Linked DNA regions of Homo sapiens: region 1 is linked to region 2. The links come from fine-mapping of genetic effects on gene expression. A gene starts in region 2. The other region holds a variant in brackets. All regions are shown on one strand. Distances are between the middles of the regions.

Region 1 (8,275 bases), 550 kb before region 2:
GATAGCTGGAGTCCAGGAGTTCAAGGCTGCAGTGAGCTATGACTGCATCATTGCACTCCAGCTTGGGCAACAGAGTGAGAGCCTGTCTCAAAATAAAAGAAAAAAAAGTGTTTTGTACTATTTGTCTGTGATCTTGTTCCTTGTATTTTTTTTTTTTGAGACAGAGTCTTGCCGTGTCGCCCAGGCTGGAGTGTAGTGGCACGATCTCGGCTCACTGCAAGCTCTGCCTCCTGGGTTCAAGCAATTCTACTGCCTCAGCCTCCTGAGTAGCTGGGACTACAGGCGCCTGCCACCATGCCGAGCTAATTTTTTGTACTTTTAGTAGAGACGGGGTTTCACCATGTTAGCCAGGATGGTCTCGATCTCCTGACCTCGTGATCCGCCCACCTTGGCCTCCCAAACTGCTGGGATTCCAGGAGTGAGCCACCATGCTCGGCCCTTTTTTTTCTAAGAGGGAGTCTTGCTCTGTTGCCCAGGTTGGTGTGCAGTGGCGCGATCTCGGCTCACTGCAACCTCTACTTCCTGCCTTCAAGCATTTCTCCGGCCTTAGCTTCCCGAGTAGCTGGGATTACAGGCGCCCACCACCACGCCCGGCTAATTTTCTTTTGTATTTTTAGTAGAGACGGGGTTTCACTATATATGTTGGCTAGGCTGGTCTCGATCTCCTGACCTAAATTGATCCTCGGCCTCCCAAAGTGTTGGGATTATAGGCGTGCGCCACCTCACCCGGCCTTGTTCCTTGTATTTATTTAATTCTGTGATGATGAATAAACCAAACGATCAGGCTGTCAATGTGCTGTGAGATTAAGGAGAAAAGCAGTAGGCAGCACGTACCCGGTTTTACAAAACCCTGCGGGTCACCTGTTTACTACCGTCAGCCTAGACCGGTTTTTCCACCTCCTTCTGCTGACATTGGAGGACGGGTATCATTCTTTTTGGGGGGTCGTCGTGTGCACTGCAGGGTGCTGAGCGGCATGTCTGGTCTGGACCCACTCGATGCCAGCAGCACCCCGCACTCAAGTTGTGACAACCAAAACCGTGTTTTCAGACATTGCCAAGTTATCCCCTAGGGGGCAAAGTCACCCAGAAGAAGAACCACTGATGTATGCAATTAACAGATGCAACTAAAACAGTATTTGGCTATTAATAGTAATAGCACTTGGGGGGGGGGTCAATAATATCTTTTCATAGTCATTGAATTTAGTTAATTGTTTTGATTTGATTCCAGTTCAGCCCCGAACTGGGTGACCTTGGCCAAGTGACTCAGCCTCTCGGACCCTCGGGATCCTCTTCTGTGAAATGCGGACAGGGGAAGGAGCCTCGCGCGGGACGCTCACGTGCCGTTCCCGCTCCGTCCGCCCGCCTGGGGTGCGGGCGGGTACACTCCCACTCCCCGCAGCGCCCCACGCGGCTCCACCGCTTCCGAGTGAAGAGTTAAAGAGGAAGCGGCAGCCGCGCCTGCGCCCACAGTGCCTAGCCCGGAGCGCCGGTCTCGCAAGCGCGCACGCGCACGCAAGCCCGCACGCGCGCGCACGCACGCACGTGGCTCGGCCCGCGCGCATCCTCCCCTTGCAGGGGCGGGGCCAGCGCAGGGACTCCATTTCCCAGCGTGCCCCGCGGCAACGCCAGGAGCCTCCGAGGAGAAAGGAAAACGCGCGACGGCCCCGACTGCGGCGGCGCGAAATCCGCCTCAGGGACGCACGCACAGACGGAGTACCCCTGGACCCGCCCCCGGAGACCCCGTGCGGGAGCGCGCCCGGGCGTGCGCAGGGGCGGCGGCGCGGCGGCGCGGGGACGCGCGGTGACCGTTGGCGCCGAGGGGAGGAGGCAGCCGCCGCCGCCGCCGCCGCCGCCGCCGCCGCCGCCGCCGCCGTTGCGCAGATCCGGGCCGCGGCTGTGGGGAGGGCGACGGAGCGGGTGACCTTCCGGAGGCGGGAGCGAGCGAGGAGGCCCGGGAGCGCCGAGCGTCGCCGCCGCCGCCGCCATGAACAACTCGGGCGCCGACGAGATCGGGTGAGGACGAGCGGCGCGGGCCTGCGTCTCCGCCCCGAGCCCGGCCCGCCGCTCCCCGCCGCCCGGCCTCAGACGCCGCCCCCCGGGGCCGCCCCGTCAAGGTCACGCCGGCCGGGGGCGGACTCGGGACCCGGACTCGCCGCGGCTTCGCGCCGGGGGCCCTGGACGGGTGCCCGGGGTCTGGGGGGGTCCTGGCGCCCCCGCCGCCGCTTCCCGGCTTCCCGTCCTGGGGGATCCTGAAGGAGAGCCTGAGGGGTCCGGGGGGCCCCGCCGCCGCCTCCAGACTTCCTGGTCGGGGGAACCCCGAACGGCAACCTGGGGGGGTGTCCTGGGGCGCCCGTGCCGCCGCTTCCCGACTGCGCGTCCTGAGGGACCCCGAATGGGAGCCAGAGGGGTTCAGGGGCCCCCGCCGCCGCTTCCTGGTTGTGGCGGCCCCGAACGGGAACTTGGGGGGGTCTGGAGCGTCCCCGTTGCCGCCTGTAGGGCTTCCTGGCCTGGGGGACCCCGAATGAGAACCTGAGGGAGTCTGCGGGGAGTCCAGGGCGCCGTCGCCGCCGCCTCCCGGCTTCCTGGCCAGGGGGACCCCAAACTGTGGCGTGGGGGGTGGTCCGGGGCGCCCCCAGCGCGCGCCCAAACTTGGCGGGCGGCGCACGTGGCGAGCCGAGGCGAGGGTTCCGGTTCTGCCACCGCCCAACCTATCCCACTCGGGGCTCCGGGCTCCCCGCTCCCATCCCACCCCCCCAAAGTGGTAAGGTCGGGAGGGGTTCGCAAACCCAGGGCCCAGGGGGCTCGGGTCAGCCGGGGCCTGCTGTGTTTACGTTGCCTCGGCGCCTCCCCGCCGGGGGTGGGCTTGAGCTGCGGAAGGGAGAGTCAGCGCTTCCGAGGCGGCGACGGGCCCGCGGATCTTTGCTGCGCCGAGGCGTCCCCTCCTATAGGAGCCTGACCTGCTCCGGACCCCGCGGGGCCGGGAAACCTCATTTCGCTGTGCCCCAGGGCTCGGCGCCATTCTTTGGTAGGAGCGGCTCCTG[C/T]CGCAGCGACGTCGTTTTAGAGTTGCATTCTTCCGGCAAAACAGTCTGGGTTGGGTTTCCTAGTGGTCTGGTGTAAATTTCTCGGTGCCCTTAGCTTTGAGCAGCGCCCTGTGTTCTCAGCGCTGGGCTTGGCTAGTGCGGGAGCGGTTGCTGCTAGAGGGTTGCCTTGGCAGGCGCCTCTCGCACCAGCTACAGGTCACACTTGTGGATGGGAAATGCCTTTTGTGGGCTCTCCCCCTCCCCAGACAAAACAAAAGAGCACCTTCCGTTGGAGAACCAGGATGAAAGCACTTAGCCCCTGCCTAGCCCGTGCTGTGAGTCCTCTCCAGGCACTTTGACTTGGCAGGGTCCGTGTGCCTGTGTGAGGGACATTGCAGGGATGGGCCTGAGCAGGGAGTCCACCGGCCATGGGGGATGGAGCCATCGACTTTGGGGTGAGGCAGGGAAAGGGCTCCCAGATGGGGTACCTGGATTAGGTCCATTCAAGCCGCGGGTGAACGTGGGCCCGCTCCACCCAAGCCGTGGCTGTGAGGAGGCTGGAGAGAGGTGAGGGCTCCTGTCCCCTCCCTGCATGGACACCCTTGGGAAGTGGGGCAGCTGGGGTCCCAGCCTGGGTCTGGAGGGGTCCCACCCACAGCACAAATAGGCTCGCAGGCCACCCGGACGCCACGGGCTGCGTGGAGGAGAACTGGAGTGCATGGACCCTGCTCTCCTCCCCGGCTGCCAGGAGTGTCCACTGCTTTCTAAGTCAGACTCCTTGGGCAAGAAGTGTTGCCACAGCCGCCCGTCGCATGGGAGACCGGCTTCCATTCTATGCGGAGTCCACGGTCTGCTCTGATCTTGCTGTGTGGAGTTGTTGTGTGCGTGAAATGCTTGTGACCCTGCGAAGCGCCCTCCTGGCAAGTCCCCTGCAGGTGCGGTGGGTGCCATGCAGGAGGGTGCTGAGCTTGGATGGAAGCAGGCCCTCTCTGCGGCAGATGGCGGCTCTCAGGACGCCATGGGTCTGCGGTGTCCCTTACCCACTGGGGGGGCTCGGCAGCCTGAGGAGCTCCCTCTTCCTGATGCAGAGCCCTCACTGCTCACTGCCATGGAGGAGGCAGGAGATCCCGCCGGACCCCGCTTGGAGGGCTGGGCCTGGAGCATGCATGGGTGCGGGGTCAACGCCTCAGGAGACTTGGAGCTTGGGAGCCCCCTGTTCTGGGACACTTGTGGCCGTCCAGCTGCTGCCCTGGGAATCCACACCTGGAAGGTGGGTTAGGGAGCCATCCTTGGGGGAAGCTCTGCTTTTGAGTCTGAGAAGTCGTCCCAAGTTTTGAGGGTCCCTGTGCTGGCTTAGAAGTCCATGTAAAGCTTGATGGGGGATGAAAGTCAGCTGAGGCCTGCCGGTGATAACGGATGCCTTACACACACCGACTTCCAGTCAGCTTGAGGGGGGCTTCATGCAGGAGGAAGCGCATACGTGTGGTGGGGTGTGGGGAGTCCCTCTCTGGATCCTGGTGGGTTTGGCACGCGGACCCTACATGGTGGATGTGATGGACAGTGTCCTCCTTTGGGAGCGGGGCCTGTCCTGGTCCTCTTGTGAAGGGTGGGGGACAGGCACTGACCTGTCAGGAGGGTTAGAGGGTTGGCACCAGCAGGTGGCCTGGAGCGCTCAGAGCACGCGCGATCAGGAAGGCCCGAGTCTCCAGTGTGCCCTCCCTGGCCTTGTGAAGTCATCTTAAAGTCTGGCTTGAGCGCCTCTGACTTGGATTCTGGGAAGCTGACACAGCGCGGCCGGGGTCGCCACATCCTGTTGAGTAGCCGCTGGGTGCTAGGCGCCTGGGTGGTAGACCAGGTGTCAGGGATAGGGCCCATGCCTGGCCTACTGGGGAGAGGACAGAGGCTCAGAGGGGTCACCTCGAGCGCCCAGGCCATTGTGTTCTGCTGGCTTCCAAGGCAGCACACGGTCATGGAACTGGAGAGAGAGGTTTATGGAAGATTTTATCTGGTACACTGGGGAATGGTAAGACAGGGACACCTGGAAATATTGTAGGAAAGTCACAGAGGGAGGAAGGACTCAGCGGAGAGAGGAGAAAGCCGCCTCTGGGCAGCTTCGAGGATACCCAGGACTGTGGCCGGGGGCCATGCAGCTCAGAGCCAGGCCCATGGCAGGTCTCTGGGTTTATTGGGTGGCTGTGGAAGGAGACATCCTGAGTGGGGCTCCTGGCTGGGCCCCTAGAGGCCGTGACTACTTGTACCTGTGCAGAGTGAGCACAAGGCACCTGGCAAGATTGTTGGTCAGGCCAGAGAGGGCCGTGATCTGGGGGAGGCTGTTGCAGTGCGGGGAGTGATAGGGAACCTCATGGGGCCGTGCCGGCCTTTCTGGGGCTCTCTTGGTGCATTTGGAGTTATTCCGAGGCAGGTCTCCTGGGCTCTGTCAGCACTCTGGCCTGGATCACTCTGGGGCACCGTGGGCACTGCAGGGTGCTGGGCAGCACCTTTGGCCTCCATTCACTCCGGGTCAGGAGTACCCCCAGTCGTGACAACCACAAATGTTCCCAGACATCACCCAGTGTCCTGCTGGGGGGAGAGCCACTGTCTGGGAGCATCTGTGCTTTTGGCCTGGTTGCCCCTGCGCTGGGGGCCGCTGCTCCTTGTGGTTTATGGCTTGTCCTGTGTCGGCTCCTTTGATTCCTGTGAATGGGCCTTGAGGGTGGATGTGCTCCTGACTGGCTCGCCTTGGCTCCAATGGTCTGGAGCAGGCCGGTGTCTAGAAAGGCAGCAGCATGGACCCTGGCGCTTGCCCTTCACACAGCAGCTCCCCAGTGGCCCAGAGCTAGCAGCAGCGCGCAGCGTGCCCAGCTGTGCTTGTAGCCTTGGCTCTAACCCTTGGCTTTGCCAGAGAGACTGAGGCACAGAGGAGTTGAGGGATGGGCCCGGGGTCACCCCAGGGGGTGGAAGATCCGGAGCTGGGAGTCCACACTCCTCCACTGCCCGCCCCGCACAGAGGGCGCTCCTGGTCAGGCGGCTATGTTCATGGTGCGACCCGTCAATCTGAGGTTGTGCTGTCTTCTGTGAACTGAGGCCTTTTCCCATCCAGGCCTGGTCCCCGTGACACCATGTCATGATGTCAGAATCCCTGAGAGCTGTGACAGGGCTTTTGGCAGAGGCCAGTCATTCGACAGATGCTTATAGGCTGAGCTTCCAGCTTGGCTCCAGGCGTTGCCAAGGAGAACACTGGTCCGCCTGGGAGGGCGGGGCTGGCAGGGAGAGGATGAGGGTGACCACAGTTAGCACCCAGGATGTGGGCATTCAGGGGCTCCTTCAGCACACAGCAGCGCGTTCCAGTTCACGGACCGCTCCTGTGTTCTGTGGACCCCACACCCTGCAGGCGTGGGCTGGAGGGGGGGCATCTGACCCTGCTGGGGAGAGGGAGTCCAGGCTATGGAGGGGCGGGCTGGGCTCACTGGCCTGAGGCAGTGGGTGAAGTGGTCCTGGTTTCCCACCTGGTCTTAGGGGCAGGAAAGTCCCTAGAGGCTCTTCCTGATGCTCTGGAAGAAGAGAAGGGTTCCCCACACATCAGCCGCCACTGGGCCTGGACTTCTGCCTCTTGAGATTGTGCACGGAGCTGAGTGTGACTGGCGGAGCCCAGAGCCAGGTGGGGTCTGTGGGGAGGCAGGCTCCTCCTGGCTTGGTCCCCCGGCCCAGCAGGAAGGGAAAGGTCGCCTGCCAACTGCCCCCATTGAGGCTGCTGGCCCCGAATGGCCGGGCTGGCCGCCGGTTTTTGAAGCCCACTCTGGTGCTGCCAGGAGGTCAGGGCTCTTTGTGGTCAGCCTAGGCCAGAGGAAGCCTCTGCAGATGGACTTTACGCATAAATACCGCACAGGCACCCGAATGGCACGCAGCAAGCGAGGTTGCCATCCAAAACGGCTTTTGCTTTAACAGGCAGAAGAGGGTGGCTGCGCCGGCCACCGTGGATTGAGCACCTGCCAGGTGTCGAGCTGCAGGCCCTGGGTGCCAGGCTTGCAGATCCTGGGAGATGTTCATCATGACCTTTGATGGGCAGACTGCACGCTGGACTCCAGGTTGCAAGGGAAGAAGTGGAGCTCGTCCCACGCCTCCCCCACTAATGAGAACACCCCTTTTGGGTTTGTGGGGTGTGAGGTCTGTAGGAGCCACGACTTCCAGTGTCGGAGATGCCGTCAGCTGGGTGATGACTCTCCCACCCAGCGGGCCCCTCAGAGGCAGGGTGCAGGAGCCACATTGCTCACCGACCCCTTCATCTGCGTAGGCCAGTGTTGCCTTGCCCCGTTAACGTCCTCAGTCCACACGCCGCCAGCCAAGGTGCAGGCTGAGCAAGCCTGGAGCTGAGGACAAGCGGACCGCCAGCCCCGTAGCAAGCCCACGAGAGCCAGCAGCTCCTCCTTTTGGCCTCTGCCCGCGCCCGGCTTCCTGGACTCCGACGTTTACTTGTGTGAGAGTTGGTTCTGCTGCCTGGGCAGTTGATGGACAGTGTCTGGGAGGTGCCTGCCCAGGGCTCCGCATGTTTCTGATGTGCCGGCTTCTCACTCACGACCTGGTGAGGTTGGCAGCCAGGAGCTTTCTTATTTTATTGATTAAAACATCCTGAGATTCAGAAGTAGGGACTTTGTGCCAGGGCCCTGGAGGCAGTCCCTGCCACTGAAGAGATGACCCTGCTTTCCGGGACTTCCCGGAGGCTTCTGTCTGTAGACCAGGGAGAAGGTGTTCGCCGGTGGCTCCTGAGTGGTAGTAAAAGACACATGGACACAGGAAGCTTTAGCGTTAGAAGCTGCTCTCAAATATCTCAACAGAAACACACAGTGTGGCCGCGCGCGGTGCCTCACGCCTGTCATCCTAGCACTTTGGGAGGCCGAGGCGGGCGGGTCACCTGCGGTGGGGAGCTCCAGACACAGCTATGTGAAACGAAAGCTATCTGTTGCTGTCTCAGATTCCATAAGGACTGAGACTTGTTTCAAAAGAAACTGAAATTCTGTCTTGTTCTCAGTAATGAAAGTCTTTTATACCATAATTGTATATATAACTTCTGACTTACAGGAAAATTACAAAAATTCCCATATCCTCTTGGCCCTGCCAGACTCACCATTGGCTGACATTTTACCCTTTGGCACGTGGTGCCTCTTGCCCCACCCCCAGTGAACTGTGTGTGTGTGTGTGTGTGTGTGTGTGTGTGTGTGTGTGTGTTTAGATGGACCCTCACTCTGTCGCCCAGGCTG
Region 2 (8,312 bases):
TTTTCAGGGGAGACCATGGGGGTCAGAGAGCTGGCCAGGCGGGTGGTCTGTGTCTGTCCCCTGCTGTTGAAATGAGGGGAGGTGAGAGGAGACGCCGTGTGCCTGGGGAGGCAACACTTTCTACCGTTTGCTGGTTTATAAAAATCAAAGATGGCCAGGCACGGTGGCTCACGCCTGTAATCCCAGCACTTTGGGAGGCCGAGACGGGCAGATCACGAGGTCAGGAGATTGAGACCATCCTGGCTCTACTAAAATACCCTGTCTCTACTAAAAAAAATACAAAAAATTAGCCGGGCGTGGTGGCGGGCGCCTGTAGTCCCAGCTACTCGGGAGGCTGAGGCAGGAGAATGGCGTGAACCCGGGAGGCGGAGCTTGCAGTGAGCCGAGATCGCACCACTGCACTCCAGCCTGGGCGACAGAGTGAGACTCCGTCTCAAAAAAAAAATAAAAAAAATCAAAGATGGGGGCCTGCTGGGACCGTTTGATTTCTTCCCATTCAGACCCTGCCAGATCCTGAGGCTGGCCCAGCTGCCTGTGTCCTCTGGGGCTCCCTGAGGAGGCAGCACCAGCTGTGGTGTGCATGACGGACAGGGGTCCCAGTTGGGGGGTGCAGCCTCCCGATGGGCCAGGATGGGGGATGCTTGGGTGCCCTCAGGATGTGCAGGCTGGGCGGGAGGAAGCGGTGAGAGTCCACCCCTCCCCACCTTCCTCTTCTCTGCTGTTTTTTTTTGGAGACAGAGTCTCACTGTGTCGCCCAGGCTGGAGTGCAGTGGTGTGATCTCCGTTCACTGCACGCTCCGCCTCCCGGGTTCACACCATTCTCTTGCCTCAGCCTCCCGAGCAGCTGGGACCACAGGCGCCCGCCACCACAGCTGGCTAATTTTTTGTATTTTTAGTAGAGACGGGGTTTCACCGTGTTAGCGAAGATGGTCTCGATCTCCTGACCTCGTGATCCACCCGCCTCGGCCTTCCAAAGTGCTGGGATTACAGGCGAGAGCCACCGGGCCCGGCCATTCTCTGCTGTTTTCTGACTCAACATCATGAAACAGGACCTTAAGCTGAGAAGTGGTGAGATTGGGGCCATCCTCATTTCCACATAAGGCCGTGTTCCTGTTTACTGGGGGCTAGGACTTGGCATGTCTTTTTCGGGGATAGCCCAACCCTTCTGTGTGAAAGGGGTCGTGATGGTCACTGCAGGACAGCAAGCACACCTTGGCCCCTCAGTGGGCAGTGGGTGCAGGGCTGGACGAGGGCCCAGGGGGCAGAAGCTAGTGCGCCGATAGCGTGTGTCATCTGCGGCCTGTGAGCACTGATGATGCCCGAGTGGCGGAGGGCGGGATGCTTCCACGTGCTCAACTTTTTTTTTTTTTCTTGAGACAGAGTCTTGCTCTGTCGCTCAGGCTGGAGTGCAGTGGTGCCATCTTGGCTTACTGCAGCCTCCACTTCCCGGGTTCAAGTGATTCTCCTGCCTCAGCCTCCCGAGTAGCTGGGATTACAGGCGTCCGCCACCATGCCCGGATAATTTTTGTATTTTTAGAAGAGACCGGGGTTACACCATGTTGTCCAGGATGGTCTCAAACTCCTGACCTCAAGTGATCTTCCCACCTCGGCCTCCCAAAGTGTACGTATCTTTTTAGTAACGATATATTTGACGATGATTAAAAAAACCCGATCCTTGAAGGCCCTTGATAGATGCTGAGGTGAGTACAGGCCTGACTCTGAGGGTCATGCGCCTAGCAGGCGTCGCCCGGTGCACAGGGCCAGGAGCTGAGTCGTGCGGGACTGGATGGAGGCCAGGGGATATAGAAGACCTGGGCAGCTCCCCAGGACCAAGCCCTCTCGCCTAGGGCTCCCCGGGGAGTTAGGCCGAACCCTGCTGTGCCCTTCACTCTGCAGCCCTCGTGGGGATCATCACAGAGGCAGGAGCTGGCAACCGAGGTGACTGCCTTCGAGTGGAGGGAAACCGGGGCGGGATGTCGCCCGGCGGCTCCCACACGATGAGGGGAAAAGGCACTCCAGTCTGGGTGGCAGAGCGAGACTCCGTCTGAAAAAAAAAACAAAGGAAATGTAGAAACGCAGCCCACCCAGGTTTTCCACGGCCGTTCATGGTTACGCTTCTGGAAGGACCCGTGTCCTCTCAGATGTAGCAGGATTCCGATGGGAGCCACCCCGGGTCCCACTCGCCCCCGGGACCTGCCGTGGGAGCTTTCTTTCCTGGTGGGGTGCCTGACTCTGCCTGCACGTTCCCCCCGCTGTCTGTGGCACCACTTGGGACCGGGGACCCCTGCCCCCCTGGCAAGACCAGGTCAGCTCTGCCCCCGGGCCACGGAGCAGGAAGCAGAGCTGAGGCTGCTGAGGTGGCGCAGGGTTGCTGTGGGGGCCTGTGCGCCATGGGGGCCTGGGTGGGGGTGTTCTCACTTCCCCCGGAGTCTGGAAGGCCGTCTTTGTGATGGATTTGATGCAGATGTGTCCACTTTGCTTTTGTTGATGGCGTCTGAGGCTCTGGAGTCCATGGCAGCCTTGCCTCCGTTTGCATAATCTGAATTTTGGGAAAATTGCCCCTATGTGGACTAGTTGCAGGGACAGTGCCCTCCGCCAAGGCTGCCGGTGGTGTTTGCCTTATGTGTCCGGTGCTGGGTGAGTGCCAGCTTTTCCCTGGTCAGCTCTGCCCGTGGCCCTCACCTGTGGTCTGTGCCATCACCAGGGCGAGGCTGACCTGTGGGACGGGGTCCCTGCACAGCCTCGCCGTCCCCCACATCCCCCCAACAGGGTCTGGTCCCAGCTGCCATTGTGCAGCCTTGCCCCCTCCCCCCGCATCAGGGTCCGGTCCTGGCCGCTGTACCGCGATCACCTGTGGCCCTCCTGTGTTCTTTACCTGGACTCTTGCCTTTGCTGATGGCGACCTGTGACGGCTCAGCTGCGTTCTCAGAGGCCGGCTGTCCTCGTGGGCGTCTCCGGTGCAGTCGGCGCGGTGAGGTTGGCTTCTGCCATGGACGGGGCCTTCTCGTGGTGATGACAGTCGCCCTTGGTCTGGTGTCTGCAGTGCTCCGAGGACCGGCCCTGCCCATCCCTGGCGTTCACTCCTCAGCTTCCTCCCATGGGGTGGGCGGCTTCCCTCCTCTCCCTGATTTGTGGGGTGTTTCTCTTTTGCACCTGATGCGTTAAACCCATTACCGGCCTAGGTCAGCCTGAGGTTGGTTTGTCCTGGCCGCGGCAGCTCCTGCGCCCCTCCATTGTGGAGGGCGCCCTTCCGTCTGCCCTGCGTCACTGGGCTGGGCCTGGCCCCGCTCTGCTGTGGCCCTGGCACTGGAAGTATGTGCTGCCCTGGTGTTCGGGGGCTCTTGGGTCCTGGGGCGCTGCAACCCCTCATTTTCTTTCCTTGGGGTGCAGATGAATTGGGGTGGCAGGGAACCGAGCCCACAGTGGCCAGCCCCTGCGGCCCCAGGTCAGAGGGCAGGGCCGGCCTGGACAGAGCTGCCCAGAACGGTCTGCGGCCGGGTCCACATGAGTCTAGGTGCCTCTGAGGGCACTGGGACGGCGGTGGCCTGCACCTGCCCAGCCCAGTGAGGTCCCTGGCCTCCCTTCAGCTTTGCCCTGGGCTCTGGGCTGAGGGCTGTGTGGTGATGTCAGCCCAGGGACTGTGACATCACTCAGTGGAGACAGTCAGAGAAGGGGGCTCCCGGGGCCCTCCCCAGGGAACTGGCCCTGGGCCCAGACCAGATGGAGGACCCCGAAAAGAACAGGGCAGGTAGCAGCCTGAGGCTAGGGCTGGGGAAGGGGATGGGAGCTGACGGGGAGAGAGCAGCCCCTTGTGGGATGGCTGCAATCCCCTCGTTGGCGCCCGGGAGCCATCCTTGGCGTGTGACCCGGAGCCGGCACTCGCCCCCTGGGACGGAATCGTGGCTGCGTGGGTTGGGTGGAGGCTGGGTGAGGATCAGCGTCCCTTCGTCCCTCCCTGGGGTTGTTGCTTTTCGCTGTGGCCCTCAGGCAACAGGGCAGGCCCCCAACCCCCAGGCCTGCGTGGGCACTGTGGGTGCCCAGCCTTTACGTCCTCGCTTCCTTCCAGGCCCCGGCCTTGTCTGGCTTCCCTTGGGCACCCCCTGGGGTTCGGAGAGCCCCAGAAGAGGCCGGGCTCTTCCTCCTTGGTGATGGACGGGTGCTGGGCCCTGACCGAGTGGTGACCGCCTCCAGGGAGTGATCTGCGCCCTCGGAAGCTGCTGAGTCTTGGAGTGGCGGCTCTTGTTTGTGGGGGCAGGGGGAGCTGGGCACCCGCCCTGTGCCCACGGAACACAGCCCAGGGTGGCGGCCCTGCCTGTCCTCTGACTGCCCTCCTGCTGCTGCTGCTGCTGCTGCGAGGGCCTCAGGCGCAGGCGGTGACTCTCGGGGCCACTCCTGAGGTGGGGGATGTGGGCTAGCGGCCACCGTGGGCGGCAGGTGTGCAAGCAGTGCTCCCGTTTTCCACTGGGCTGCCCTTCACCGGCTGTGGGTCAGCGCCCCCCACTGAGGCTCAGGCTGAGGCGAGGCTCCGCGGGGTGGGCGTGTGCCAGGGTGAGGCTCCGCGGGGTGGGCGTGTGCCTGGGCGAGGCTCCGCGAGTCGGGGGCAGCGCCCAGGTCAGGGGCTTCTCCGTCCATGTCAGGCTTAGGGTGGGTGTGGCTGGGCCCTCCCTCTGCTGTCCGCCCACGACCCCCTCAGAGGGGCTGTCGTGAGATGCTTGGAGGCGGGATCCAGCCCTGAGGGTGCAGGGAGTGCTCAGCGGACCCCCGTGCCACTGCTGTCACCGGAGGAGGCTGCTGCTCGGCTCCGGGCTCCATCTGCAAAGCCGGGTGTGCATCTGTGTGGCTCAGCTCTGCAGGGCACAGTGGGGTTTGCTCCCGGCCGGCCCTGAGGCCGGGCACAGGGAGGCCAGTGCTCATCCAGGGGGCCAGAGAGAAAGTAGCAACCCCAACCTGCCTGGGCCACAACAGCCAAGACCACTGTATCAGAACAGACGCCAGCGGGGCAGCCTGCTCGTTGGCCGGGCGGAGCAGGGTCGGCACACAGCCCGGGCTGGCCTTCACCCCAGCTCCCGACAGCGTTGGGTCCCTGAGTGCAGGGCCTGCCCCTTTCTCATCCTCCTGCCTCCAGGTCATGGGGCAGGGGTGCCGAGAGGCCCTGCGGGAGCCAGGACCTGAGAGGTGATGGTCACCACCCAGACGAGGGGCCGGGGGTCGCACAAGGAGGCTTCCAGGGGGATGCCAGGAGCAGTGGGGCCCTAGACCCAGCAGTGGGTAGACCCAGCAGGGCAGCGCTCACGTCACAGGTTCTGGGGGTTGGGGCTTGTCATCTGTGCAGGTGCAGCTGGGATGGGGATTTGGTGCTTTTTGTTCTGCAAAAGCCAGAACGCATGTAGCTGAGCCAAGATCAGACGGCATGGTGCCTCATGCCTGTGGTCCCAGCTACCTGGGAGGATGAGGCGGGAAAATTGCTTGAACTCGGGAGGCGGAGGTTGTAATGAGCCGAGATCCTGCCACTGCACTCCAGCCTGGGTGATGGAGCTAGATCCTGTCTCAAAAAACAAAAGACCACGCATCCTAGCCGGCAAGGCCACTCTGTACTCAGACCCGGCAGCTGTGGCTGTGGCACAGGCGCTTACCCTGCGGCATTGGCCCTTTCAGTGGTTGGTGTTGACCCTCCACAGAGGGGCTGGGTGGGGTGTGTCCAGTCCCATCTGGGTAGACTGAGTGTTGGGGATGGGAGAGTGTTTAAGGAGGTGGCGGTTACAGACTCCAGCATCGGGACACGGGGCCGTGGGTCATACCCACATCCGTGGGGGCTGTGAGACAGCCGTCCAGAAGCTTCTGTCTCCGGGCCAGGAGGACACCCCAGAGAGCCCCAGGAGGCTCGTTCCGGAATTTAGGGCTCAGCCTCGATGAACCTGGCCAGGCGGCGGTTGATGGGTTAATTCAGTTAATCACACATCACTCAGGGTTTCTCAGCAGAAGGAACTGACCAAGCCAATGGCTCACCTGGAAGAGAGAAGGAGGGAGGAGGAGGGGATTCTGCAGAGGGAAGGCTGGTGGTGGCGCCCCCCTTCGACGGTCGTGCCCTGATGCTGCGTGGCTTAAACGGTGCCACCCGGAGATTGGTGGGCGGGATTGGGCCTCTGGGGTCCCCGGCTGTGGAGAGGGCAAGGCAGGGGCGGCTAGAAAGAAAAGCAACCTGGACGCAGGCCCCACCTCCCTCCAGGCAGCCCCACAGGCCCGAGGGCCACCGTGTCAGGAGGGATAGCCTACACGGAGAGCAGGCCAGTGGCCCTGTGCCCAGGAGGGTGCCTTGCCCAGCCTGGAGGCCCGCAAGGATGAGAAGCAGTGTGTGCCCGGGAGGTCACGTGGGCACCACAGACGAAAGTGGAGCCGGGGGAGAGATGTCCCGGGATGCACCAGGCGCTCGTGCAAACCAAGTGCTGAGCAGAGAGCAGCCTGGGAGAGAAGGGGGCTGCCCCGAGCGGCTTGGGTGGCCGGGCCTGTGGGAGACCTTGGGTTTGCTGTTAGGAGGGACAGTGAGCGCAGGCACCTCTCTCTCCACTTCATGTTTGTCCTCACTGAGGGAGCCGAGCAGATGCCTTTGCCCCTGCAGGTCCCCCATGTCCCCTCGCCCGGGGCGCGCTCCACAGGCTAGGCCACTTTCACAGCTCACCACACAGGCAGAGACTGGAGGGTGCGCAGGACCCCGGGTGACTGCAGACGTGGGCACAGAGGGGCCTCTGAGGGCGTCTGGCGGCATTTGAGCAGCTGCCAGATCTCCCCTGGAAACACTGGGGTGTGTGCTCGGTGGGTGCCGTGTGTGGGGGGTATGTGCTCGGCGGGCGCCGTGTTTGTGGGGTGGGAGCTAGGCGGGCGCCGTTTATGTGGGGTGGGCGCTCGGCGGGCACTGTGTGTGTGGCACGGCCACTGCTTAGGGCCCCCTGGAGCTGCGGGGCACACGGCAGAGCCAGCCTCATGTCACCACGTGCTTCCCCCGTGTGCAGGGAGGGGTTGGAGGTGTGCGCTTGTCTTGTCCGGAAGCCGGGTGTTGGGACGCGTCCTGACGACGGCACTGCCCACATCCTAATGGGACACCTGAGGGACATCGGTGGCTGAGTAAGGGGCCCCTCCCGAGCAGGTCTGGAGGCGTTGGAAGCACAGCGCAGCCTCATGGGGCACCTGCCTGCTCTGCCTGGAATTGAGGGGCGATTGGGACTCCCACTGCCCCCACCAAAGCCTGTGCCCCTGATGTCTGTCCAGAGCACGGCTTCCTTCTCGGTGGTTCCCAGAGGCCGCTGGGCCTCGCTTCGTCCTTTTTGGGCAGCGAGTGTGTATGTTAGGGGAACAGGAGCCCGGCAGGGCCGTCTTGCAGGGCTCAGCAGTGGGGGCCGTGGGGTTGGTGCACCAGGGCAGGAGAGCTGCCCGGCTCCTGCTAGGTGTCTAGAGGGCCTCAGCTCTCCCAGGCACTGTCCCCTGTCCCCCCATCTCCCCTGTCCCCCCCATCTCCCCATCCCCCCGTCCAGGGCCGCAGCAGCTCAGCTCTCCCAGGCACTGTCCCCTGTCCCTCCGTCCCCCCGTCCAGGGCTGCAGCAGCTCAGCTCTCCCAGGTACTGTCCCCCGTCCCCCTGTCCCCCCGTCCCCCCGTCCAGGGCCGCAGCAGCTCAGCTCTCCTAGGCACTGTCCCCCGTCCCCTCGTCCCCCCATCCAGGGCTGCAGCAGCTCAGCTCTCTCAGGCACTGTCCCCCCTCCCCTCGTCCCCCCATCCAGGGCCGCAGCAGCTCAGCTCTCCCAGGCACTGTCCCCCGTCCCCCTGTCCCCCCATCCAGGGCCGCAGCAGCCCAGCTCTCCCAGGCACTGTCCTCCGTTACCCCGTCCAGGCACTCTCCCCCCGTCCCCCATCCCCCGTCCAGGCACTGTCCCCCCTCCCCCCGTCCCCCCCACCCCCGTCCAGGGCCACAGCAGCCGGTATTGAGTGTGGGTATGAGCTTTGGCTCTGGGTCCTGAGCGTCCCTTCCCCAAATTCCCCATGTGGCTTCCCAGTCTGCATCTCCATCTGCTCCCAGGGTGCGAGTTGGTTTTTGTATTAATAACTGAGGTGTGACACTCGGGCTGTACCCGCTAGCTGTGTAACTCATGCAGCTCAGTGCCTTTAGCTCATCATGAGGCTGTGTCTCTGTCTGTGCCATCTAATAGAGGATATTTTCATCCTCATGGCGAGAAGGGATGGATTTGTTTTCCTCGTGAAGTCGGTGACGTTTGCTTTTCAGGTTTGGTTGGTGGCCTCCAGTCTCTTGTCCTCAACGAGGGTT

The links.
Region 1: its variant is fine-mapped to the expression of CSNK1G2-AS1 in unexposed skin (GTEx, PIP above 0.99).

Annotation. Positions count from the first base shown.
Region 1 is chr19:1,405,790-1,414,064 of GRCh38, forward strand. It overlaps DAZAP1 (DAZ associated protein 1), which reads left to right and starts at 1,797. Exons shown (of 12, transcript NM_018959.4): 1 at 1,797-2,013. The coding sequence starts at 1,985. RefSeq lists silencers at 1,641-1,870, 2,011-2,220, 2,601-2,700. The variant C/T (reference allele first, on the strand shown) is at 3,042.
Region 2 is chr19:1,950,968-1,959,279 of GRCh38, forward strand. It overlaps CSNK1G2-AS1 (CSNK1G2 antisense RNA 1), which reads right to left and starts at 3,582. Exons shown (of 3, transcript NR_033400.1): 1 at 2,876-3,582; 2 at 2,419-2,539; 3 at 1,560-2,044. All of the region lies in intron 1 of CSNK1G2 (casein kinase 1 gamma 2), which reads left to right. RefSeq lists an enhancer at 3,963-4,914.